Regions from separate parts of the Homo sapiens genome. Here regions 1, 2, 3, 5 and 6 are each linked to region 4. Evidence: fine-mapped expression QTL. A gene starts in region 4. Each other region holds a variant in brackets. All regions are shown on one strand. Distances are from middle to middle.

Region 1 (4,089 bases), 420 kb before region 4:
ACAATGGGGAAAATGTTTCCAGGGCATTTCAGAGTCTTTCAAGGCAGCCTCTCCTATCACAGGCCCAGAGGCCAACCAAAAATGATTCATGGGCTGGGCCCAGGACCCTGCTACTCTGTGTAGCCTCAGGACATGGTACCCTGCATCCCAGCTGCTCCAGCTCCATCTGGGGGCAGATTTACCGCATGCTGTTCTCATGATAGTGAGCTCTCACAAGATTTGCTAGTTTAAAACTGTGTGGCCAAAAGGGGCCAACAGTATAGCTCAAGCCATTGAATCAGAGGCTGCAAGCCTCAAGCCTTGGCGGCTTCCACATGGTGTTGGGCCTGCGGGTACGCAGAGGTCAAAAGTTGAGGTTTGGGAATCTCTGCCCAGATTTCAGAGGATGTATGGAAATGCCTGGATGTCCAGGAAGAAGTGTGCTGTAGAGGCAGAGCCCTCATGGAGAACCTCCACTAGGGCAGTGCAGAGGGAAAATGTGGGGTTGGAGCCCCCACACAGAGTCCCCACTGGGGCACTATCTAGTGGAGCTGCGAAAAGGGGGCCATTGTCCTTCAGACCCCAGAATGGTAGAACCACAGTTTGCACTAGGAGCCTAGAAAAGCCACAGGCACTCAACGCCAGCCCATGAAGGTAGCCACAGGGGCTGTACCCTGCAGAGCCACAGGGGCAGAGCTGCTCAAGGCCTTGGGAGCCCACCACTTGCCTCAGGGTGCCCTGGATGTGAGACATGGAGTCAACGGAGGTTATTTGGAAGCTTTAAGATTTAATGACTGCCCTGCTGGGTTTCGGACTAGCATGGGACCTGTAGCCCCTTTATTTTGGCCAATTTCTACCATTTGGAACAGGAGCATTTACCCCATGCCTGTATCTCCATTGTATTTTGGAAGTAACTTGTTTTTGATTTTACAGGCTCATAGGTGGAAGGGACTTCCCATGTCTCAGATGAGACTTTGGACTTGGACTTTTAAGTTAATGCTGGATTGAGTTAAGACTTTGGGGGACTGCTGGGAAGGCATGATTGGTTTTCAAATGTGAGAAGGACATGAGATTTGGGAGGGGCCAGTGGTGGAATAATATGGTTTGGCTCTATGTCCCCACTCAAATCTCATGTTGAATTGTAATCCTCATGTGTCAGGGGAGGGACCTGGTGGGAGGCGACTGGATCATGGGGACAGATTTTCCCCCATGCTGTTCTCATGACAGTGAGTTCCACAAGATCTGATGGTTTAAGTGTGGCATTTCCCCCCATCGCATTCTCTCTCTGTCTCCTGCTCACCGTGGTAAGGAGTGCTTGTTTCCCCTTCACCTTCTGCTGTGATTGTAAGTTTCCTAAGACCTCCCACTCATGCTTCCTGTGAAGCCTGTGGAACTGTGAGTAAATTAAACCTCTTTTCTTCACAAATTACCCAGTCTCAGGTAGTTCTTTATGACAGCGTGAGAATGGAGTAATACAGAGACCAAAGTTAATTTGCTATCAGCTTAAAATAGTGCATTATAACAAGAGTCTTTATGCTAGCTCTATAGTAAACATAAAGTAAGTACAGCAGATACACAAAGGAGAAAGAGAAAGGAAACAAAGTATAGCACCACAGTGAGCCACAAAACCACAGAGATGAACAAGAGAGAAAGAAGGCTACAGAAAAAAAAATCTATAAAACAACCAGAAAACCATTAACACAAAGGCAGGAATAAATCCTTACCTATAAATAACAGCCTTGAATGTAACTGGGTAAGCTCCTCCAATTAATAGATATAGAATGGCTGAATGGATAATAAAACCCAAATGTATGCTGCGTATAACAGACTCACCTCACTGTTAAA[G/GACAA]ACATAGATTGAAAGTTAAGGGACAGAGGTTGGGTGCAGTGGCTTATGCCTGTAATCCTAGCACTTTGGGAGGCTGAGACAGGCAGATCACTTGAGGTCAGGAGTTCAAGACCAGCCTGGCCAACATGGCGAAACCCTGTCTCTACTAAAAAATACAAAAATTAGCTGGGTGTGGTGGTACGCGCCTGTAATACCAGCTACTTGGGAGGCTGAAGCACAAGAATCGCTTGAACACAGGAGGCAGAGGGTGCAGTGAGCCAAGGTCGCACCACTGTGCTCCACCCTGGGGAGCAGTGCGAGACTCCATCATATAAAAAAAAAAAAAAAAGTTAAAGGATAGAAAAAGACATCCATGCAAATGGAAAGCCAAAGCAAACAGGAGTAGCCATGCTTACTTTAAGTCAAAAACTGTAAAAAGAGACAGAAAAGGTGATTATATAATGATAAAGGGATCAATTCAACAGGAAGATATAACAATTACATTATTTATAATATATATTATATAATCATTATATAATATATATTTGTGTCTCATATATATATTTACAGTATATATTAACACACACACCCCAAACACTGGAGTGCCCAAGCTTGTAAAGCAAATATCATTAGATATAAAGGGAGAGACAGACTATAATAGAGTAATAGCAGGGAATGCAAATACCCTACTTTCAGCAATGGACAGATCGATAGACCTCAAAATATACTACAAAGCTACTGCAACCAAAAAAGCATGGTACTGACATAAAAACAGACCAATAGAGCAGAATGGATATCCCAGAATTAAACAGACAACTGATTTTCAAAAAAGGTGCCAAAGACACTTAGAAAATGTATATCTCCTTGCAGAAGAATAAGACTAAACTCCTACCTCTCACTATATACAAAAATCAACTCAAAATGGATTAAAGACTTAAATGTGAAACCTGAAACCACGAAATCTACTGGAAGAAAATAGGGGAAAATGCTATACAACACTGTGCTAGGCAAGGATTTTTAAAGCGAAGACCTCAAAACACAGGCAACAGAAACAAAAACAGATAAATCTGATTACATCAAACTAAAAAGTTTTTGCGCAGCAAAGGAAACAACTGACAAAATGAATAGACAACCTACAGAAATAGGAGAGAATTGCAAACTATACCTCTGACAATGGGTTAATATCCAGAATATATAAAAAACTTAATAGCAAAAAAAAACTGATTAAAAATGGGCAAAATAGCTCAACAGACATTTCTGAAAAGACATAAAAATAGCCAATAGGTATATAAAAAAATATTCAAATAAACTAATCATCAGGGAAATGCAAACTCAAATCACAACAAGACACCACTTCATTCCAGTGAGAATGGCTACCATCAAAAAGACGAAAACAAGTGTTGGCGAGGATTTCAGGAGAAGGGAACACTTATACACTGTTGGTGGGAACGTAAATTAGTAGTTATTATGGAAAACAATATGGAGGTTACTAAAAAAAAAAAAAATGGAACTTCTAGGTAATCCTGCAATCCTACTACTGGATACATATCCAAAGGAAATGAAATCAGTATGTTACAGAAATATCTGCACTCCCATATTTTACAATAGCCAAAATACAGACTCAACCCAAGTGTCCAACAATGAATGAACAGATAAAGAAAATGGGGTATATATACTCAATAGAGTATCATTCAGCCATGAAAAGAATGAAATCCTGTCATTTGCAGCAATATGGATGGAACTGGAGGATATTATGTTAAGTGAAATAAGACAGACATAGAGAGGCAAATACTGCAGAATATCACTTATACGTGGAATCTAAAAAATAAAAAGTTGATACCATAGAAGTGGAGTAGAACTGTGGTTACCAGAGACTGGAGTGGGGAGGTGGGAGAGAAAGATGAGGAGAGGTTGGGTAGTGGGTACAAAGTTACAACAAAATAAGAAAAATAAATTCTGGTGTTCCATTGCACAGTAGGATTATTATGGTTAACAGTAAAGTACTGTATATTACAAAATAGCTAGAAGAGAGGCTTTTGAATGTTTTCACCACCAAAAAATGATTAAATGTATGAGGTGATGGATATGCTAACTACCCTAATTTGTATATTATATAACACATAACTGTATTGGAATACCAACTTGTACTCCATAAATATACACAACTATAATGTGTCGATTAAAAAGTTAAAAAAAGTATCAACATTGCTGGAAATGAGACCAAATAACCTAAAACCAACAGAAAAAAAACCTGCTATATTTATTACGTTCAAGAAAAAAGGAAAA
Region 2 (4,089 bases), 440 kb before region 4:
TCTAATAAAAGATTATATCAAGGTCACAGGATATAAGATCAATATGCAAAAACCAACTGTATTTCTATATACTAGCAATGAATAATATGAAAATGAAATTAAGATACAATTCCATTCATAATCCTATTAAGAAGAATAAAATATTTGGAAATGATTTAACAAAAGTGTAAGACTTATACACTGAAAAATACAAAATATTGCTGAAAGAAATAAAAGATAAATATATGCAGAAGCAAGCCATGTTCATAGGCTGGAAACACAATATAGTTAAGACTGCAATTCTCCCCAAATTAATCTATAGATTCAAATCATTTCCTATCAAAACCCCAACAGGCTTTACGGTATAAATTGACAAGCAAATCCTTAAATGTATATGAATATACAAAAACCTAAAATAGCCAAAGCCATTATAAAAACGAACAAAGTTGTAAGACTTACTGGATTTGAAGTTACAATAAAGCTACAATAATCAAGACAGTCAGGATTGGTACCAAGACAGAAAAATAGTTAAAGGAGACAGAACAAATGGTACAGAAAACAAACACACATATTTATGGTTAACTGATTTTCAACAAAGGTACCAAGGCAATTCAATGGGGAAAAAAACAGCCTTTTCAATAAACCATGCTAGGTAAAATGAATATGCAAATATCCATATGCAAAAATATATATATACAAACAAAACAAAAAATTAACTCACAATGGATCACAGACCAAAATGTAAGAACTAAATTTTAAAACTTTTAGAAAAAACTGTAAGATGAAATAATCGTGAGGTTGAAGATTTCTTAGCTATGACACCAAAAGCTCTATTCTCAAAAATAAACCTTAAAGTAGATATCATCAATATTAAAGTTTTATGCTTCAAAAGACACTATTAAGAAGTCACAGACTGGCTGGGCACGGTGGCACACGCCTGTAATCCCAGCACTTTGGGAGGCTGAGGTGGGCAGATCACTTGAGGTCAGGAGTTTGAGGCCAGCCTGGCCAACGTGGTGCAACCCCCATCTCTACTAAAAATAGAAAAATTAGCCAGGCGTAGTAGTGGGCATTTGCAATCCCAGCTACTTGGGAGGCTGAGGCAGGAGAATTGCTTGACCCCGGGAGGCAGAGGTTGCAGTGAGCTGAGATCACACCACTGTACTCCAACCTGCGGAGCAGAGCAAGACTCTGTCTCAAAAAAAAAAAAAAAAAAAAAAAAAAAAGCCAGAGACTGAGAGAAATTATATGAAAACTACATATATGACATAGAACTTGGATCCAAAATAGATACATTCTTACAATTTGATAAGACAGTACAATTTAAAAATGGAGAAAATGTCTGAATAGACATTTCACCAAAGAAGATACAGGAATGTCTAGTAAGCACATAAAAAGACCCCCTACATCACTCATCACTACTGAACTACAAATTAACATCACAGTAAGACACTGTTAAATATACACCAGAATGGCAAATAATATAAAAGACTGTCAATACCAAGTGGTGGTCAGAATGTAAAATGGTACAGTCATTTTATAAACAATTTGGTCTTTTCCCAAGAAGTTAAACATGTACTTACATAACACAGCAATTCTACTCCTGCATATCTATAATAAAGAAGTGAAAACACATGGCCATATAAAGACTTTTATGTAAATTTTGATAGAAGCATTTTTGTGACAGCCCCAAATTAAAACTAAAATTTTCAATTTTTAAAATCTTCTGAATGGATAGACAAAATGCAGTATCAACAATTTAAAAAATGGACATGCTAGAATTGATATGTGCTAAAACATGGGTGAGCTATAAAAACATTATGCTAAATGAAAAAAACTAGATTAAAAAACTATACAACATATTCCATTTACATAAAATAGCAGAAAATTAAATTTTAAGTAAAATACTCTCTCTATATGTAAAATACTCTCTCTCCAGAAAGCCAAACAGTGGTTGTCTGATGAAGAAGGTGTGGAAAGTAGAGATTACAGAGGGGCAACCAGATAAAGGTCATCTATGAAAAATTTAGAGCTAAGATTACAGTTGGTGAAAAACTGAATGAACGCTTCCAACTCCCCACGTCTTCATCCCCAACTACTTTTTTTTTTTTTTTTTTTTGAGAGGGAGTCTGGTTCTGTCATCCAGGCTGGAATGCAGTGGCGCAATCTCCACTCACTGCAACCTCCGCCTCCCAGGTTCAAGCAATTCTCGTGCCTCAGCCTCCCAAGTAGGTGGCTTGGGTACATGCCACCACACCGGGTTAATTTTTGTATTTTTAGTAGAGCCAGGATTTCACCACGTTGGCCAGGTTGGTCTCAAACTCCCAACTTCAGGTGATCCACCCGCCTTGGCCTCCCAAAATGCTGCGATTACAGGTGTAAGCCACCATGCCCCGCCCCCAACTACTTTTTATTAATAGATTGACAACAAGGATGTTTGCTCCACTCTGTCACAACAATGTACTATAGTTTTCCCCTAGTACAACAAG[G/T]AAAAAGAAATAAAAGGCATTCAGATCAAAATAAGATCTGAATTCAAAAATTCTTATTCAAAAATAAGAAATGAAGCTGTTTATTCACAGATGACAAGATCACTTACGTACAAAAATACTAAAAAAATATAAAACAGCAATTAGAATAAGTGATTTAATAAGGTTGCAAGATGTAAGATCAGCATATACAATATCTCTACACTGAAAACTGCAAAACATCATTGAGAGAAATTAAAGACCTAAATAAATGGAGTGATGTACCTCATTCATGGTTTAAAAGAATCAACTATTAAGATGTTCACTTCTCCCTAAACTGGTTTATAGATTCAGTGCATTCCCAATCAAAACCTCAGCAGGTGTTTTTGTTTTTAATTAACAAACTGATGCTAGAAATCATACGGAACTGCAAAGAACATATGAAAACAAATAACCAAAACAATTTTTACGAAGTTGGAGGATCCATACTGGTAAGTCCTCTGAGCTGGCCACACCATGGTCAAGCCATCGTGACATTCCCGCCACCACCGCCCCCAGCCTGTGATAATGTACCCTTGTGAATGTACTTTGTAACATTCCTCCCCGCCCTTGTGAATGTTACTTTGTAACATCCTCCCAGCCCTTGAGAATGTACTTTGTAATATCCATCCCCTGCCTGCAAAAAATTGCTCCTAACACCACCGCCTATCTCAAACCTATAAGAACCTATGATAATCCCACCACCTTTCACTGACTCCTTTCTTGGACTCAGCCCACTTGAACCCAAGTGAATAAACAGCTTTGTTGCTCAAACTAAGCCTGCTCAGGTGGTCACTTATATGGACGTGCGTAACATTTGGTGCCGAACACCCAGGACAGGGGAACTCCTTCGGGAGACCGGTCCCCTGTCCTCACGCTCCCTCCGTGAGGAGATCCACCTATGACCCTGGGTCATCAGACCAGCCAGTCCAAGGACCATCTCACCAATTTCAAATCGGTAAGCGGTTCTTCACACTCGGGTAAGCGGTTTTTTCGCTCTCTACCTAACCTCTCTCGCCTCCCTTCAATCTCTCTCCTTTCAATTTCAGTTTCTCTCCCTTCCAGGTAGAGACAAAAAGGAGACACACTTTATCTGAGCATTTAAAAACTCTGACGTCGGTTACTGACTTGGGAAGACACATCTTCCCTTGGTGTCTGATCACCACAGGGACGCCTGCCTTGATCATTCACCCACATTCCCTTGGTGGCAGGTCAACTGTGGAGATGCCTGCTTTGGCTGATCATGCCTGCTTTGGCTGCTCACCCACATTACAGCCCAAGACTCAGTCAGGGACGCCTACTGGAAGCCTGGTAGCTGCCCATCTCCATTTCTCCATGTCTCTACCTTCGTCCTTAAATTTACCTTCTCCACTATGGGCAACCTTCCGCCATCCATTCCTCCCTCTTCCCCCTTAGCCTGTGTTCTTAAAAACCTAAAACCCCTTCAACTAACACCTGACCTAAAACCTAAATGTCTTATTTTCTTCTGTAATACCACTTGGCCCCAATACAAACTCGACAATAGTTCCAAGTGGCCAGAGAAATGGCACTTTCGATTTGTCTTCTTACAAAACCTAGATAATTTTTGTCAAAAATTGCGCAAATG
Region 3 (4,089 bases), 410 kb before region 4:
TAAAATATTATATAGTTAAGTGTTTTATAGCACTCGAAAGTGTTTTTATAAATATAATCATAATGATATATGATAACCAGGACAGATAGCCAGCCCATTTTTCAGAAGAAAAAAACAAGGTTCAGAAAGTTTATGGGTTTTCTCCACAGGAGCTTAGGCCAAATCAAGATTCCTGCTCCTTTCACTTGTATAATACAACACTATAATACAACATACCATACCCAGCTGAAGCATTTGGCATAATAAATATCAACACAAACTACAAAAAGATAACAGGAGTTTTGTCTTTACTAACTAGCACAACCTCAACACTGTGTTTTGCTTTAGGTACTTATTTTCATTTAATCCTTGAAATACTTCAACAAAGATACTATCATTACCCCTATTTTATTGAAGACAAAACCACAGTTAAAGGTTAGTTCTGACTTAAGGTCCCATGGCTAAGAAAAACTGAATAAGAAAAACAAATTCAGTTTTTATTGTCAGTGTTTTTCCCCAACTCCAAAATCACCCCTACCAAAATATAAACTCCAGGAAACCAGGGATCTAATCTATAATGCATATACCAAGGGCTTAAAACAATAAGGAATATAAAGGTGCTTAACAAATATTTGGTGAATAAATGAATGAATGGCTATACAGCGTGTGCTCTTAAATACAGAACGACACTTACCTAAGCTGATGTTCCCTGAGATTTGATAATATTTCCATTCCATGAAGATAAGAATAAATAGTATTTAAGTCCTGTGGAACAGAAGAAAAAAATTAGATTATTTTTCAAATATGCTGTTTAAAATATAAGGCACCCCACAATTCTGATTTTAAGCAAACAACCACTTATGGCAAAGCAGTTAACTATGGAAAAATCATAAAACCTCTGAATCATAAAAGATTTGAAAAGGCAGAGAAGAGATCCCTCAGCTCTCAAAGGAACTCCTCTTCAACGTGACCAATGGCCTCTATTCATTCAAACAATGCCAGAACCCCAAATTCATTATTTTATATGAAAGTATATTAATTCATTATTTCACTTCTAAGCAGATGTAAACTTTCCTTCTTTAGTGGCCTCCAAATATTTGATATCCAATATCCTGGCTGACATCTCTAGAGATGACCCAGTTTATCAATATTCCTCTTAAAATATGACTTTCTAAAGAATTTCTTTCTAAAGAGACTCAAAATGACATAATCTACCACTAAATAAAAAAGATTTCCAATGGTACAATCCTATTGTTCACTCTGTGAAAGAGGTAGAACATCTTTCTCTATTCCTCACCCAGATAACTAGGCATTAAAACAACAACAACAACAAAAACCTCAAGATGACATAGTATAACCTCAACTAAGAGCAGTGGCATAGCAGAAGAAAGTGGAAAGAGTCTATAGATCCCTAACAGCAAATAGTATTGTACCACTGATGTCATTTAAGATTAAAAGCAGACAAGCTACGAGCTGATGGGTGCAGCACACCAACATGGCACATGTATACATATGTAACTAACCTGCACGTTGTGCATATGTACCCTAAAACTTAAAGTATAATAAAAAATAAATAAATAAAAAATAAAAAGCAGACAAGCTTAAATTCGCTATAAAAAACATACTTCCTATTTCCTATGAGGAATAATGCCTTTATACCAGGGCAAACTACTTCCAAACACTGCCTTCCCACTCTGATATACAACTGGCCAAGAAAATTATCAGATAGTAGTGGGGGTACTGGGGGAGAAACTAAAGACAACTTGTTTTCTAGTAGGTTAATAAGACAACACGGAGCCATTAAGAAAAGCAGCAAGCTAGGCTGGTCACGGTGGCTCACGCCTGTAATCCCAACACTTTGGGAGGTCGAGGCGGGCGGA[A/T]CATGAGGTCAGGAGATCAAGACCAACCTGGCTAACACAGTGAAACTCCATCTCTACTAAAAATACAAAAAATTAGCCGGGTATGGTGGCAGGTGCCTGTAGTCCCAGCTACTCGGGAGGCTAAGGCAGGAGAATGGCGTGAACCCGGCAGGCGGAGCTTGCAGTGAGCTGAGATTGTGCCACTGCACTCTAGCCTGGGTGACAGAGTGAGACTCCATCTCAAAAAAAAAAAAAAAAAAAAAAAAGAAAAAGAAAAGAAAAGAAAAGCATCAAGCTGAGCACAGTGGCTCTCGCCTGTAATCCCAGCACTGTATGAGGCCAAGGTGGGTGGATCACTTGAGCCCAGGAGTTAGAGACCAGCCTGGGCAACATGGTGAAACTTGCCTCTACAAAAAATAATTTAAAAAAATTAGCCAGGCTTGTGGTACACATCTGTAGTCCCAGCTACTTAGGAAGCTGAGGTGTGAGGGATGGCTTGAGCCTGGGAAGAAGTTGCAGTGAGCCGAGATCGCACCACTGCACTCCAGTCTAGGCGATTGAGACTCCATCTCAAGGGAAAAAAAAAAAAAAAAAAGGCAATAATCTCTAATTCCAAAGATAACAACTGTCAATTAACCACAGTGAATTGAACAACCACATTTATTTCTGCTAAATCCTTACTAAAGTAACAGTGAAAAAGATATTTAAGTATATAAAAATAAAGATTTGAATAGGTTAAAAGAAAGGTCTACCAAATTTTAGCAGATAGCAGATGAAGCACTGATATGGTAAACTGTATTTCCAAAGATGGCCACAGAGGTATTTCTTATCCCATATGCTCTTTTGCAATGCAGTCTTGCCAGTTACCCATCAAAACCTGGAATCTATGTGCCCTCCCCACAGATGTGGGTTGGCTCTGTGACTTGTTCTGACCAAAAGAATACGATAGAAGTGAGGTTGTATAAAAGATTCAAGCACCCTGAGACCACTAATGTTGTGAGGAAGCTCCAGCTAGCCTTAGGGAGGCAGAAAGGCCACATGGAATAACACCAAGGTACTAGATATGTAAGTTATGCCTTCCTAGAGCAGCTTAGAGCTACCAATTGAATGGAACTAAAAGAATGATCCCAATTGAGGCTCTACGGGGTAAAAGCACCAACCACTCAGCCAGAACCTGCTGAATGTAGGTAATAAAGAGAGTCATGGCAAAAGTGTGGCTCACAGTGGGTCCACTGAGTCTGCAGATCCACCTAATAATGGTCATTCCCCACTCCCTCAGTTTATAATTAGAATTTATATACTTGGCAGTTAGAATACCCTAAATAATGGGTCCATGACCTGTGTGGTAAAAGCCGTCACAATGGAAAAAGCCAAGTGGAAACCTCTGCCCCATTCCCCAGAACAAGACAGTAAATAAAAGACTATTTCTTCCAGAGGGGCACAGAATAAAGACTAGTGCCACCAGTAAAGACTCAGAAGTACGCAGAGGTAATAGTTTCTATTGTATTCTATTTAATTTATGGAGAAAGCAGACAGATCCTAAAAAATGACTGTGCAGACTACCACAGAATGAACCAAATTCTAGCCCTAATCACAGCCTGCAGTCTCAGCCATAATATTGCTGCTGAAGCTGATTAAGCCTCAAATACTGATGTGGTGTTACTTTCCATTACTTTACTTTCCATTCCAATTAGAAGATCAGAAAAAAATCTGCATCCATGCAAGGCAATATTAACTTACAGTTTTATCTTAGGACTCTTAACTCTTCCGCTCTCTGTCATAACACAGTCAGTGGGGGTTGGGTGGGGGACAGACATCTAAACCTCCTGATCTATTTACATATATTACATCATGCTGATTGGACAGAATGAATAAAAGAATAGGCTAGAGGTGACTGGTACCCTTAGAGTCCTTGGTAACACACATGCGGCTCCAGAAAATGGGAGATAAACACTATGAAGACTCAAAAGATATGCCATTTCAGTGAAGTTTTTCGGGATACAGTGGTTGGGGGCACGTCAGGACACCTCCTGCAATGTCGAAGTGACTTTGGCTTTAGGTCAAGATAAAATAAAAGAAACTAGACTTACTCTTCACCTAAAACAACTAAAAACAACAACAAAAAAGACAAATATATAAAACGTTTTTCATAAGATAGGACATCCGGAAATATCTAAAGTGAAGTAAAGATCCACCTGAAAAAATCATTGTAGTAGTCCTGAACTAAGACTGATTCTTCCCATCTTGGTGA
Region 4 (4,089 bases):
GGGTTATTCTATCCAATAAGCACCATAGACCAGCCTCAGCCTCTTGCTTTTTGCATTGGGAAGCTCGGCCTCTGTGGAAGCAGCCACTACCTGCCCCAAGAATCGCTCCTGCTTGACGGTTCTGAGGCCCTGTATAGTCTCTCAGTGAGGCAGATTCCCCAGTTTCCCATTAGAGGAGGGAGCTGACCACTTTAGGAAATGCTCCACAAGGAAACAGGACTCCACTTTGAGTCAGTGCCAGCTAACCCTGCTCACAGACAAGGACCCCACAGGGTGAGGGACTTTTTCTCACAGGCTGCTGATGACCCCGGTCACAAGTGGTCTTGCAGCCCCTAGACACCTCCCTGCAGCCACAGAAGATCAAGTCTTCAGAGAGCTGACCTTGGACCCATGGTTGGGTGGGGCCTCCTGAGGGTAGGGCAAAGGGGTCCTGGCAGTGGGGAGAGGCTCTGAGACCATCCATCACTCAGGCATTAAATGGTGGCTGTTACGACCACCATCACCATTATTTTAATTATCCTTGCCCTTTACCTCCAACCCCAGCTCTAGCCCTGCCCTTGTCTGCTGGATGTGCCTCAGGACCAGAGTGCCCCTGCACAGCCAGTCACAGACACTGGCAGACAGAAGGAGCTTAGGGAGCTGAGGGGATTAGGGAGGCTTCACTCACTCTCCCAGCTCAGGGGAAGTGTCCCTGTGGCCTAACTTAAGGAAATGGTGGGGGTGAAGGAAGTGATTACTAGGCCCACCAACCCTCCAGGTTCAGGCCTGATCCAGCCAAGCACTTAGCATTGGTTGATCAATTAAAACCTCGAATGGAATCCCAGTCTGCCAAATATCCATGTGACACTAGGCAAGTCAATTGACCTCTGAACTCAGTAAAAAAAGGGATGGTGCCACCGACCTCCTAGGGTTTTCCATGAATATTAAATAACACGTACAAAGCCTCAGGTAAAGATTTCAAGAGGGTCAACTTCCTCCCCTTCCTTGGCTCAGAAAAAGCTTTATTACCACTTCTGATGGTGCTGTTTGAATGTGAGATAATAATAAACACTAACATTCATAGAGCATTTGCTGTGGCCTAGGACAGGTTTAAGGCCAATTTAAGGATCAAGCACTGCACACAAATTATCAGGCTGAATCTGCACATGGGGGTTGGGGTGGAGGTGGAGATCCTTTAGTGGTATTATACTCTGGAGGACCCCAGGCTCAGAGAGGGGAAGTAGCCGGTGCAGGTGGTAGAACTGGCAGATAAAAGGGCCTGTGGTGAGACTCCAGGTGTGGGTGTATGGGGGGTTGAGGGAGGTAAGCGCGGAGGCGGGATCGAGCAGGGGTCCTTGTAGCCGCCTAAGAAGTGCAGTGGTGAAGCTGACTCCTGTGAGGTGGAGGGGAGGGGTCTGGAAACAGTGGAGACACAGCAGCCCTGGGCAGAGCAGAGGAGCCAGGTGAACCCTACCTTACAGAAATCTTGTACTCTGGCTGAAGGACGGGCAGGGAGGGGTCGTGAGGAAGCCCCTCGCCGGGATCAGGAAGCCTAGGTCAGTCCGGGTTACATAGCTGACCTGCTGTGGGACCTCGGGGACCAACACCCTCGGTTTCTGGTCCCAGGAGATGGACAAGGACGCAATGTCTGTTCCTGGCCTTGGCTCAGGGCCTAATCTGATCCGCGGATGGTCCTTGCCATCAGGGAAGGGGGACGCAAGAACTCGGCGGGGGTTTGTGGTGGGGTCGCAGAGAGCAAGCCCTATATCTCCCTCCGCAGACCCAGGTGCTCCCCAAACCCGGCCCGGAGCCCGCGAGAACTGGGGGCGGAGGGTGTACTTAGGCGGCCCTGGGGACCTTGACGGGACAGCTCAGCAGCAGGGGATGGGGGCTCGGCGGCCGCGGAGATGTAACACCTCCACCTCGGGCGAAGACCTCATAGCCTGCGGGAGATGGGAGTCCGGGACGCGGACAGGACGGGCACTTACCTACGAATAGCCAGAGGGAGCCCCCCGACACGAGGAAGAAGGTCAGCATGGCGGTCAGCGGGGCCCGGCCCGGCCCGGCCCGGCCTCCCCGACCCGCAGCCCCGCAGCCCCGCAGCCCAGCAGCCCCAGCAGTAGCCGCGCCGCCGCCGCCGCTGCCGGGTATTTTTAGCCCCCGCCCTCCGGCCCCGCAGCTCCCGCCTCCCCGCGCCGCTGCGGAGACGGCTCAAGGGGGAGGGCGCGGCGCGCACTCGCAACCGAGCCTTACTCCCTGCCCTGCAGCCTGGCCGGCCGGGTCTGGGGCTTGCCCCGCACTGACCGCGGTGTCGGAACCGCCAAGCTCCCGGGCGGGGGAGGGGCCCGGCCGCAGAGCGAACCAGCCCTCTCCGGCCCCGCTCTCCAACGTCAGTACCTGGCATTCTGCGGAAACCGGCTGGAAGGGGGAGCACGGGCGACGAGCGCCAGAGCGTGACATTGAGCCCACCCCGCCGCCACCCACCCCATCAACACGCGACCCTGCCCCCGCGCGACTCGCAGCCTGGGTTTTATGGCTGGGCAGGCTCGAATGGCAGCCGGGTCGCGGTTACCTGTCCTAGGAGGTGCACACTCCTGTGGGCTGTTGCCCGCTGACACCAACGCCCCCTAGGACCCGAGTTTGCAGACATGGGGAGCCTCCGGGTGCCACCTCTGCAAACCAGTGAGGGGAGGGAGTGGCAAGTGTTCACCTAGGCTCTGACAAATCAGGCAGCTAGACCAGATAGTGCCCAGATCATCTGGGGACGCACGAGTTCAGGTCTGAGGCTACGCAAGGTCACAGGAGACTCAGTGTGATCACAGGCTGCCATATGTGTTCACCAGTAGTAACATGGTCACAGGCAGCCACATGGAATCACAGGTGTCTCATGAGGAAATCATGATCTTCGTACACAACTGTATGTGGCACACGAGGTCTCAAGAAGCCCCTCATAGCCACAATAAATGGCCATATAGCCACACACAGCCACAGATGCCCACACTGCTGGGCTGAGGGCTTGGACACCTGTTGCAGTGTCTGCCATTGAAAGGAGGAAGCCCAGTTGCACATTTTCTGAAATAATAAGGGTAGGCATCCTGGTGGGCACCCCATGAACATCTGCACCTCCAAGCAAGATCACCTCTTCCCAATGCCCTTGCTTGTTTTCCTCAAGCATGCAGAGCCCACCAGGACTCCAGCACCGAGGACAGCGCTCAGGCAGCCGGGCCTTCTCTATACGCAGCCCTCCCAGGCCAGGAGCTGGCTGAGCCACAGCCCAGAAAGAAGAGGATAGAAAACCAGAGAGCAGAAGTCAGGAAGCAGAGAGTGGAAGAGCATGAGATCTCTTCAGGCCCACCAGAGACCATCAGCCATGAGTGCATGTGGGCTCACAGCTCAGCAGCTGGGTGTGTGGGGGGGCCTGTATCTGTAGTACGAGTACATGGCATGTGTGTGCCCAGGCCTGTGTGCACCTTGTAGTGGTGCAAGTGTGCAGATGTGTGCCTCTGAGTCACTTCCAATCTTTACAATAGGATCCTACACCTTCTCCATCATAGGATCTGGACTCCTGGGAGAGCTGCTCCAGCTTGAACTCAGCCACAGCCTGGCAGGGACTTTGCTGGGATCTCAAGCTTGGCAGGGCTCCTCCAAGAGGGTGTGACAGAGGCTGTATGGCAGGACTCCTCCCAGCAAGTAACATGGCTTTGAGAATCCCCCCACCCCACCCATACACTCCCACTGGCAGCAGAGTAACTGGAGATCTGCTAGTACTGAAGAGGAGACCCAGGGGAACCAGAAGCCTGGGCAGAAAGAACATATCTCCCCAGACCAGATTGGTCTAGGGAGGTGGTCAGGTAATTTCCCCATAGGCCAGTGGTTCAACAGAGCATTTCTTCACAGAGCAGGGGGCCAGGAGCCAGGCTGCAAGCCTCAGGCCTCTGCGGCACTCAGCTGCAGGAGCACTCCGGGCCCTATGCGGCTCTGGCAGCCTCCTCTTCAGAGTGATGTCATGGGACACATTTAGCTTGGCCTCCAGCAGGATGTCGCATCCCGTTACTCTCCCTACAGATGTCTCTGCTACTTGTGAATATTTTAATTCAAAAACCAGTACTG
Region 5 (4,089 bases), 110 kb before region 4:
CAAACCAACAGAATACACATTCTCCTTATATGCACATGGCAAACACTGATCACAAAGTCAGGTACAAAAGAATCTTCAGCAAATTTCAAAAGAAATGAAATCATACCAACCACTCTCTCAGACCACAGAGCAATAAAAATAGAAATAACTGCTAAGAAAATTGCTCAAAATCATACAATTATTGAACTAATTTACACTCCCACCAATAGTGTAAAAGTATTAAAGACAGTGTGGCGATTCCTCAAGGATCTAGAATCAGAACTACTATTTGATCCAGCAATCCCATTATTGGGTATATACCCAAAGGATTATAAATCATACTACTATAAAGACACATGCACACGTATGCTTATTGCAGCACTGTTCACAATAGCAAAGACTTGGAACCAACCCAAATGCCCATCAATGATAGGCTGGATTAAGAAAATGTGGCACATATACACCATGGAATACTATGCAGCCATAAAAAATGATGAGTTCATGTCCTTTGCAGGGACATGGATGAAGCTGGAAACCATCATTCTCAGCAAACTGACACAGAAACAGAAAACCAAACACCACATGTTCTCATTTATAAGTTGAACAATGAGAACACATGGACACAGGGAGGGGAACATCACACACCAGGGCCTGTCGGGGGGTTGGAGGATAGGGGAGGAATAGCATTAGGAGACATACCTAATGTAGGTGAAGGGTTGATGGGTGCAGCAAACCACCACGTGTATACCTATGTAACAAACCTGCACGTTCTGCACATGTATCCCAGAACTTAAAGTATAATTTTTAAAGAAGTGAAAAAAACCCCATACAATTAAATGGAAATTTTAAAAACCTGCTCCTGAACGACTTCTGGGTAAATAATGAAATTAAGGCACAAATCAATAACTTTTTTGAAACTAATGAGGAAGAAGATACAACATACCAGACTCTCTGGGACATAGCCAAAGCAATGTAAGAGGGAAGTTTATAGCACTAAAAGCTCACATCAAAAAGTCAGAAATAACTCAAATTAACAACCTAATACCGCAACTAGAGGAACTAGAAAAACAAGAGCAAATCAACCCCAAAGCTACCAGAAGACAATAAATAACCAAAATCAGACTAAAGGAAACTAAGATGAAAAAAAACATACAAAACATCAATGAATCAGGGGCTACTTCTCTAAAAGAATTAATCTGATAGACCACTAGCTAGATTAAGAAAAGAAAGAGAAGAGCCAAATAAACACAATTAGAAATGACAAAGGAGACATTACCACTGACCCCACAGAAATACAAAAAACTCTCAGAGACTATTATAAACACCTCTATGCACACAAGCTAGAAAACCTAGAAGAAATGGATAAACACACAGACCAATAGAGAAACAAAATAGAGAACCCAAACATAACCACCAGATCTTTGACAAATCTACCAAAACAAGCAATGGGGAAAGGACCATTCCATAAATGGTGCTGGGATAACTGGCCAGCCATATGCAGAAGACTGAAACTGGAGATCCCTTCCTTACACCATAAACAGAAATTAACTCAAGATGGATTAAAGACGTATATCTAAGACTCAAAACTATCAAAACCCTGGAAAATAACCTAGGAAATACCACTCTGGACAAAGGACATGGCAAAGACTTCATAACAATGACGCCAAAAGAAATTGCTATGAGAGCAAAAATGACAAATGGGACCCAATTAAACTAAAGAGCTTCTGCACAGCAAAAGAAACTATCAACAGAATCAATAATCTACAGAATGGGAGAAAATATTTGCTAACTATACATCTCACAAAGGTCTAATATCAGAATCTATAAGGAATTTAAACAAATTTATAAGCAAAGAACCATTCCATTAAAAAGTGGGCAAAGGACATGAACAGACACTCTTCAAAAGAAGACATACACACGACCGACAAACATGCAAAAATGCTCAACATCACTAATCATTAGAGAAATGCAAATCAAAACCACAATGATACCATCTCACACTAGTCAGAATGACTATTATTAAAAAGTAAAAAAGTAACAGATACTGACAAAGTTGCAGAGAAAACAGAATGCTTATATACTGTTAGTGGGAGTGTAAATTATTTCAACCATTGTGGAAAGCAGTGTGGTAATTCCTCGAACAGCTAAAAACAGAACTACCATTTGACCCAGCAATCCCATTATTGGGTATATACCCTAAGGAATATAACT[T/TA]ATTCTACCATAAAGACACATACAAGCACATATTTATCACAGCATTATTCACAATAGCAAAGACATGGAATCAACCTAAATGTTCATCAATGGTAGACTAGAGAAAAAAAATGTGGTACATATACACCATGGAATGCCATGCAGTCATACAAAAGAATAAGAATATGTCCTCAGCAGTAACGCAGATAAATCTGGAGGCCATTATTCTAAGCAAACTAATACAGGAACAGAAAACCAAATACTGCACAGTCTCACTTATAAGTGGGACCTAAACATTGGGTATATATGGACAGAAAGAAGGAACAACAGACACTGGGGCCTACTTGAGGGTGAGAGGAGGGTGACTATTGAAAAAGTACCTATCAGGTACTATGCTTATTACATAGATGAAGAAATAATCTGCACACCAAACTACTGTAACAGACACACAATTTATCTACATAACAAATTAGATATGTTTACACCTGAATCTAAAATAAAAGATAAAAAATAACGAGGAATTTTGGAAACTAACAAACACATGAAAATTAAACAATATGCTCCTGAATGACTAGTGAGTCAATGAAGAATTAAGAAGGAAACTGAAAATATTCTTGAAACAAATCATAATGGAAATACAACATACCAAAACCTACAGGCTACAGTGAAAGCAGTACTAACAGGGAAATTTACAGTTACAAATGCTTATATCAAAAAGAATAAAAACTTCAAATAAACAACCTAACAATGCATCTAAAAGAACTAAAAAAGAGCAAACCAAACCCAAAATTAGTAGAAAAAAAAGATCAGAGCAGAAACAAATGAATTCGAAAACAATACAAAAAAGCAATGAAACAAAAAATTGGTTTCTTGTAAAAAAAAAACTGACAAACCTGTAGCCAGACTAAGAAACAAGAGAGAAAACCCAATTAAATAAAATCAGAGATGAAAAGGGAGACATTACAACTGATACTGCAGACATTCAAAGGATCATTAGTATCTACTATGAGCAACTACATGCCAGTAGACATATGCAATCTAGTATGACTGAACCATGAAGCAACCCAAAACCTTGAGCCGGGCAGGTGGCTCACGCCTGTAATCCCAGCACTTTGGGAGGCCAAGGTGGGCGGATCACGAAGTCAGGAGTTCGAGACCAGCCTGACCAACATGGTGAAACCCCATCTCTACTAAAAATACAAAAATTAGCCGGGCGTGGTGGCATGCGCCTGTAATCCCAGCTACTCAGGAGGCTGAGGCAAGAGAGTCACTTGAACCCGGGAGTCAGAGGTTGCAGTGAGCTGAGATTGTGCCACTGCACTCCAACCTGGGCAACAGAGTGAGACTCCGTCTCAAAATAAATAAATAAATAAATCCAAAACCTGAACAGGACAATACAAGTAACAAGATTGAAGCTATAATAAAAAGTCTCCTGGTAAAGAAAATTCCAGGACCTAGTGACTTCACTGTTGAATTCTACCAAATATTTAAAGAAGTACTAATACCAATCCTACTCAAACTGTTCCAAAAAATAGAGGATGAAGGAATACTGACAAACTCATTCAATGCTATCAGTATTACCCTGATACAAAAACCAGACAAAGACATATCAAAAAAAGAAAACTATAGGCCAATATCTCTGAAGAATACTGATGTAAAAATCCTCAACAAAATAGCAAACTGAATTCAACAACATATTAAACAGATCATTCTTCCAGACCAAGTGAGATTTACCCCAGGGACGCAAGGATGGTTCAACCTATGCAAATCAATCAATATGATACATCATATCAACAGAATAAAGGAAAAAAACCATATGATCATTTAAATTATGCTAGAAAATCGTGATAAAATTCAACATCCGTTCATGATAAAAATTCTCAAAACAGTAGGTACGGAAGGAACATACCTCAATATAAT
Region 6 (4,089 bases), 460 kb before region 4:
AACATTAAATCCAAAATTATAACTCACATAAAAAAGGAAAGGTAAAACAAAACAAAAAACAAAAACCAAGAGACAAAGCAATCAACAGAGCAGTCTACAAGAATTAGAGTGGATCCAGATGCTGGAACTACCAGAGAGAGAACTTCAATCAACTATGATTAAACATGTTATAGGTTCACTGGAAAAGGTATAGACAACACACACAGATTGATAATTTTAGCAGACAAAATAAAAATATAAAATAAAAATGAAAATGTTAGAAACAAAAGACGTAGTAATAGAGATGAGGAATGTCTCTGACATGCTCATTGGCAGACTCAACACAACTGAGTTAAGATCAAGGAAATTAAACATAGGACAATAAAATTACCAAAGAGAAAGAGGAAAAGAGTTAAATAAGAAAAATGAAGGAACTGAATGGTATATTAAGATGCAACTAAAAAGGGAGTTAGTAAACTGGGAAGATAAATCCAGAAGACTTACTCAACATACAGCACAAAGTCATCATGAAGAGGTAAAAAATAAGAAAGCTAAGAGGAAAGGTTGAAAAAAAAAATGTCAAGAAGATGATAGAACAAGACAATATTTAAGGAAAAAAAGAATTTTTGATGCCCAAAGCAGTCCAAAAAATCCAAAAGAGGATAATGAAAAACTACGATACCAAATTACAGAGAAAATATAAACAGAAGACTTTTAATGCAGCCAGAAAGAAAAAAGAGATCAGGAAGGCAATTAATGTCTGACTCCTCAAAATACGATGAATGTAAAAAAATAGAATGTATTAATTGTGTTAATAAAAATAATTCTCCTCCTAAAGTTGTATTAATGGCAAAACAATCCTCCAAGAATGAAGAAAAATAAAGTTATTTTCAGACAAAAAAGAAAAAATACCTGAGAGACTTAACAGAAGATCTTCAGGAAAGAATTTTTAATGGGTGTACTTTAAACATAATACAAGTGTTACTATTAGGACGGTCTCATATATAAGAAAGAACTAAAAGCAAAAAATATTAAATACGTGGTTAAATAGGAATAAATAATGATTTACAGAATACATAAAGCTAAAATACTGGACAATAGGAATTACATCTGGATACTAGCATTAAATTCTTATCAGTTTAGCTACTTATTAGCCTCAGGTGTTTTTAAATAGGTTTTCTTTTTTTGAGACATAATCTCACCCTGTTGCCCAGGCTGGAGTGCAGTGGCACAATCTTGGCTCGCTGCAACCTCCACCTCCCGGGTTCAAGTGATTCTCCAGCCTCAGCCTCCCAAGTAGCTGGGATTAGAGGCGCCTACCACACCTGGCTAATTTTTGTATTTTCAGTAGAGACGGGGTTTCACCATGTTGGCCAGGCTGGTCTCGCACTCCTGATCTCAGGTGATCCACCCGCCTTGGCCTCCCGAAGTGCTGGGATTACAGGAGGGAGCCACTGTGCCTGGCCTAAGTAGGAATTTAAAAATAGTCAGAATTAGCACTAAAAGAAGAGACCAAACACCATTTCTACAAGAATATGGTGGGGAGGAGAGGAAGGAAAAAAGAACTTAAAATAAAGGAGGGAAAATAAAAAAAAGAGGGGAAAAAACAAGAACAAATAAAAAGCACATAATGTGGTGAAAGTAAATTCAAACCTATCAGCAATCACAATGAATACAAATAGAAAAGTCTTTCCAGGTAAAAAAGAATCTCATGTCAAATATAGAAAAAGAAGAAACAGACCCCAAGTATTAAGGTTCACAGAATCCTGATATTTTTGAGAGAAGCCCAATAATTTTAAATATTTCTCTGCTTCCTAGTGAAGGAAATCCCAATCTAATAAATTTCTTGGTATCCACATCTGCTATAAATCATTAACTTAACGAAGGTTTGTTATCCTTTTAGAGGGGAAATGGTACCTACTCATTATCATCAAAATCTGAGCTCTATAACCACTAGGAATGCTTTAACTACTTGGATATCGCTGCTTCTAAACTTTTGCAATGAACAACCCTAGGAAACACATTTTTTTTCTTAAGGTGAAATAATTTGGTAAATA[C/T]TTTTAAGAAAAAAATAGTCGTGTCAATGCTGACATTTCCTACTGACATTTTAGACTGGAGTTTTTCTTAACATCTTTAATTTTACACAACTCTTATGCTAAAATAAAAATCTTGATTACTAATGACATTTATTTATGCATCTATTAGTTATATTAACTATAATTATAAATTTCAATTATTTCCAATTAAATGTATCATACAGAATTTTTCATAATATACACATAAATATTACCTATACATATATAATTGCTTTAAATTAACAAAATCAACATTACCACTAACATCCTGGTTACATCATCTTGGATACTAATATTTATATATGTATAGATTTATGTATATGTGTTATGTTAAATTAATTATAATTAGTTACATATAACGTGCGTCTATATACACACATATACAGCCATGTGCACTTAACGATAAGGATACGTTCTGAGAAACTAGTTGTTAGGCAATTTCGTCATTGTGTGAACATCATAGAGTGCACTTACACATAGACAGTATAGCCTACTACTTATCTAGGCTATATAGTATGGCCTATTGGTCGTAAGCTACCAACCTGTAAAGCATGTTACTGTACTGAACACCATAGGCAATTATAACACAATGTTAAGTATCTGTGTATCGAAACACAGAAAAGGTACAGTAAAAATACAGTATTATAATTTTATGGAACCATTGTCATACATGTGATCAGTCATAACCAGCAGTGCAGGACTGTATGGAAAACTGTAAAAAGACCACTAGTAGGCTGGGCTCAGTGGCTCACGCCTGTAATCCCAGCACTTCGGGAGGCCGAGGTGGGTGGATCACCTGAGGTCAGGAGTTTGAGGCTAGCCTGACCAACATGGTGAAACTCATCTCTACTAAAAATACAAAAATTAGCTGGGAGTGGTGGTGTGTGCCTGTAATCTCAGCTACTCGGGAGGCTGAGGTTGCAGTGAGCCGAGATCATGCCACTGCACTCCAGCCTGGGCAACAGATCAAGACTCTGTCTCAAAAATAATAATAAGAAGAAGAAAAGACCACTAGTAACACCAACAATGAGACAACTGGCTCCTAGTAACACCAACAATGAGACATACTACATTAGGAATGTACAGTTAAAATACTGTGTCTTAAAGTCACCAGAAATAATAATTCTTCATGGAATTATACCAAAATTTTACATATATTAAAATCACTTATTTTGTTTTTTGGGGGGAAGAGTAAATTTTTTCTCCTTTTGAATTGCTTTTAGTACATAAAAAGATTTACATGGCTCCCCTAAAATTGCTCTTCTTTCTCAGGTTTCTTCTAGTTCTCCTTGCTTTTTTTATTCTTTTAAATGGCACAAAATGCAAAACACAAAATAAACACTATACTTGATGGCATATTTCACTGGGATTTCATTATATTCATAAGGTAAACTAACAAAAAGTAATATCCTTACTATGGTAACTCCATACCTAAGAACATGGTATCTCTTTTTTTGTTCAAGTTTAATTTTTTTATTTCAGGGGTATTTAAACACATTATTTCTGCACATTTGTTAAGTTTAATCTTAAGTGTTTTGTTTGTTGGTTTTATAGACGGGAGTCTATGTTGCCCAGGCTGGAGTGCAGTGGCTATTCACAGACAGGAATAATTGGGACTGCAGACGTGTGTCACAACACCCAGCTTAAGTACTTCTCATACAGTTTTTGTAAATATATTCTTCTTCCCTTATGTGACATATGTTACAGATCAATTCCTTTATCCCCATTTTTAAAATATCCTGGGATTATGATGGGGACTGCACTAAATTTTAGACAAATTTTGAGATAATTTGTATCTTAAAAATATTGTCTCAACTGATTTAAAAAGATCTAAAAACAACTTTTTAAGGTTTTCTGTGTAAAGGTCTCCTACAACTTTTTTCAGATTTAATCTGATGTATATAGATGGTTTTGATGTTTATAAATGGTACGTTTATAAAATTCAATTTTCTACTTGCTTGTAAGGAAAAATACAATTGATTTTTATGTATGAACGAGTATCCAACGACCTTGTTGAAATGACATAAATTTCAAA

Which allele goes with the higher level. Alleles are on the strand shown, and positions count from the first base shown. SD is a standard deviation of normalised expression in the study named. Not every link is listed here.
With allele TA in place of T in region 5, the expression in esophagus muscle of the gene that starts at base 2,121 in region 4 is higher (moderate effect, 0.67 SD a copy in GTEx).

What was found. PIP is the estimated chance that this variant, and not a neighbour inherited with it, causes the effect.
Region 1: its variant is the best candidate, but not a certain one, in a credible set for the expression of ACSL6 in sigmoid colon (GTEx, PIP 0.57).
Region 2: its variant is the best candidate, but not a certain one, in a credible set for the expression of ACSL6 in whole blood (TOPMed, PIP 0.65).
Region 3: its variant is the best candidate, but not a certain one, in a credible set for the expression of ACSL6 in whole blood (INTERVAL, PIP 0.50).
Region 5: its variant is the best candidate, but not a certain one, in a credible set for the expression of ACSL6 in esophagus muscle (GTEx, PIP 0.77).
Region 6: its variant is the best candidate, but not a certain one, in a credible set for the expression of ACSL6 in whole blood (TOPMed, PIP 0.81).

Annotation. Positions count from the first base shown.
Region 1 is chr5:131,594,020-131,598,108 of GRCh38, forward strand. The region is part of intron 3 of RAPGEF6 (Rap guanine nucleotide exchange factor 6); the gene reads right to left. Among named protein-coding and RNA genes, the nearest start is that of RAPGEF6, 39 kb to the right of the region's middle. The variant G/GACAA (reference allele first, on the strand shown) is at 1,825.
Region 2 is chr5:131,568,865-131,572,953 of GRCh38, forward strand. All of the region lies in intron 4 of RAPGEF6 (Rap guanine nucleotide exchange factor 6), which reads right to left. Among named protein-coding and RNA genes, the nearest start is that of RAPGEF6, 64 kb to the right of the region's middle. The variant G/T (reference allele first, on the strand shown) is at 2,469.
Region 3 is chr5:131,603,950-131,608,038 of GRCh38, forward strand. It overlaps RAPGEF6 (Rap guanine nucleotide exchange factor 6), which reads right to left. Exons shown (of 28, transcript NM_016340.6): 2 at 674-744. Among named protein-coding and RNA genes, the nearest start is that of RAPGEF6, 29 kb to the right of the region's middle. The variant A/T (reference allele first, on the strand shown) is at 1,860.
Region 4 is chr5:132,009,538-132,013,626 of GRCh38, forward strand. It overlaps ACSL6 (acyl-CoA synthetase long chain family member 6), which reads right to left and starts at 2,121. Exons shown (of 21, transcript NM_001009185.3): 1 at 1,968-2,121. The coding sequence starts at 2,016. LOC124901062 (a long non-coding RNA gene) reads left to right here and starts at 1,919. Exons shown (of 2, transcript XR_007058933.1): 1 at 1,919-2,008.
Region 5 is chr5:131,904,349-131,908,437 of GRCh38, forward strand. The region is part of intron 8 of MEIKIN (meiotic kinetochore factor); the gene reads right to left. Among named protein-coding and RNA genes, the nearest start is that of MEIKIN, 39 kb to the right of the region's middle. The variant T/TA (reference allele first, on the strand shown) is at 2,191.
Region 6 is chr5:131,553,372-131,557,460 of GRCh38, forward strand. The region is part of intron 5 of RAPGEF6 (Rap guanine nucleotide exchange factor 6); the gene reads right to left. Among named protein-coding and RNA genes, the nearest start is that of RAPGEF6, 80 kb to the right of the region's middle. The variant C/T (reference allele first, on the strand shown) is at 2,037.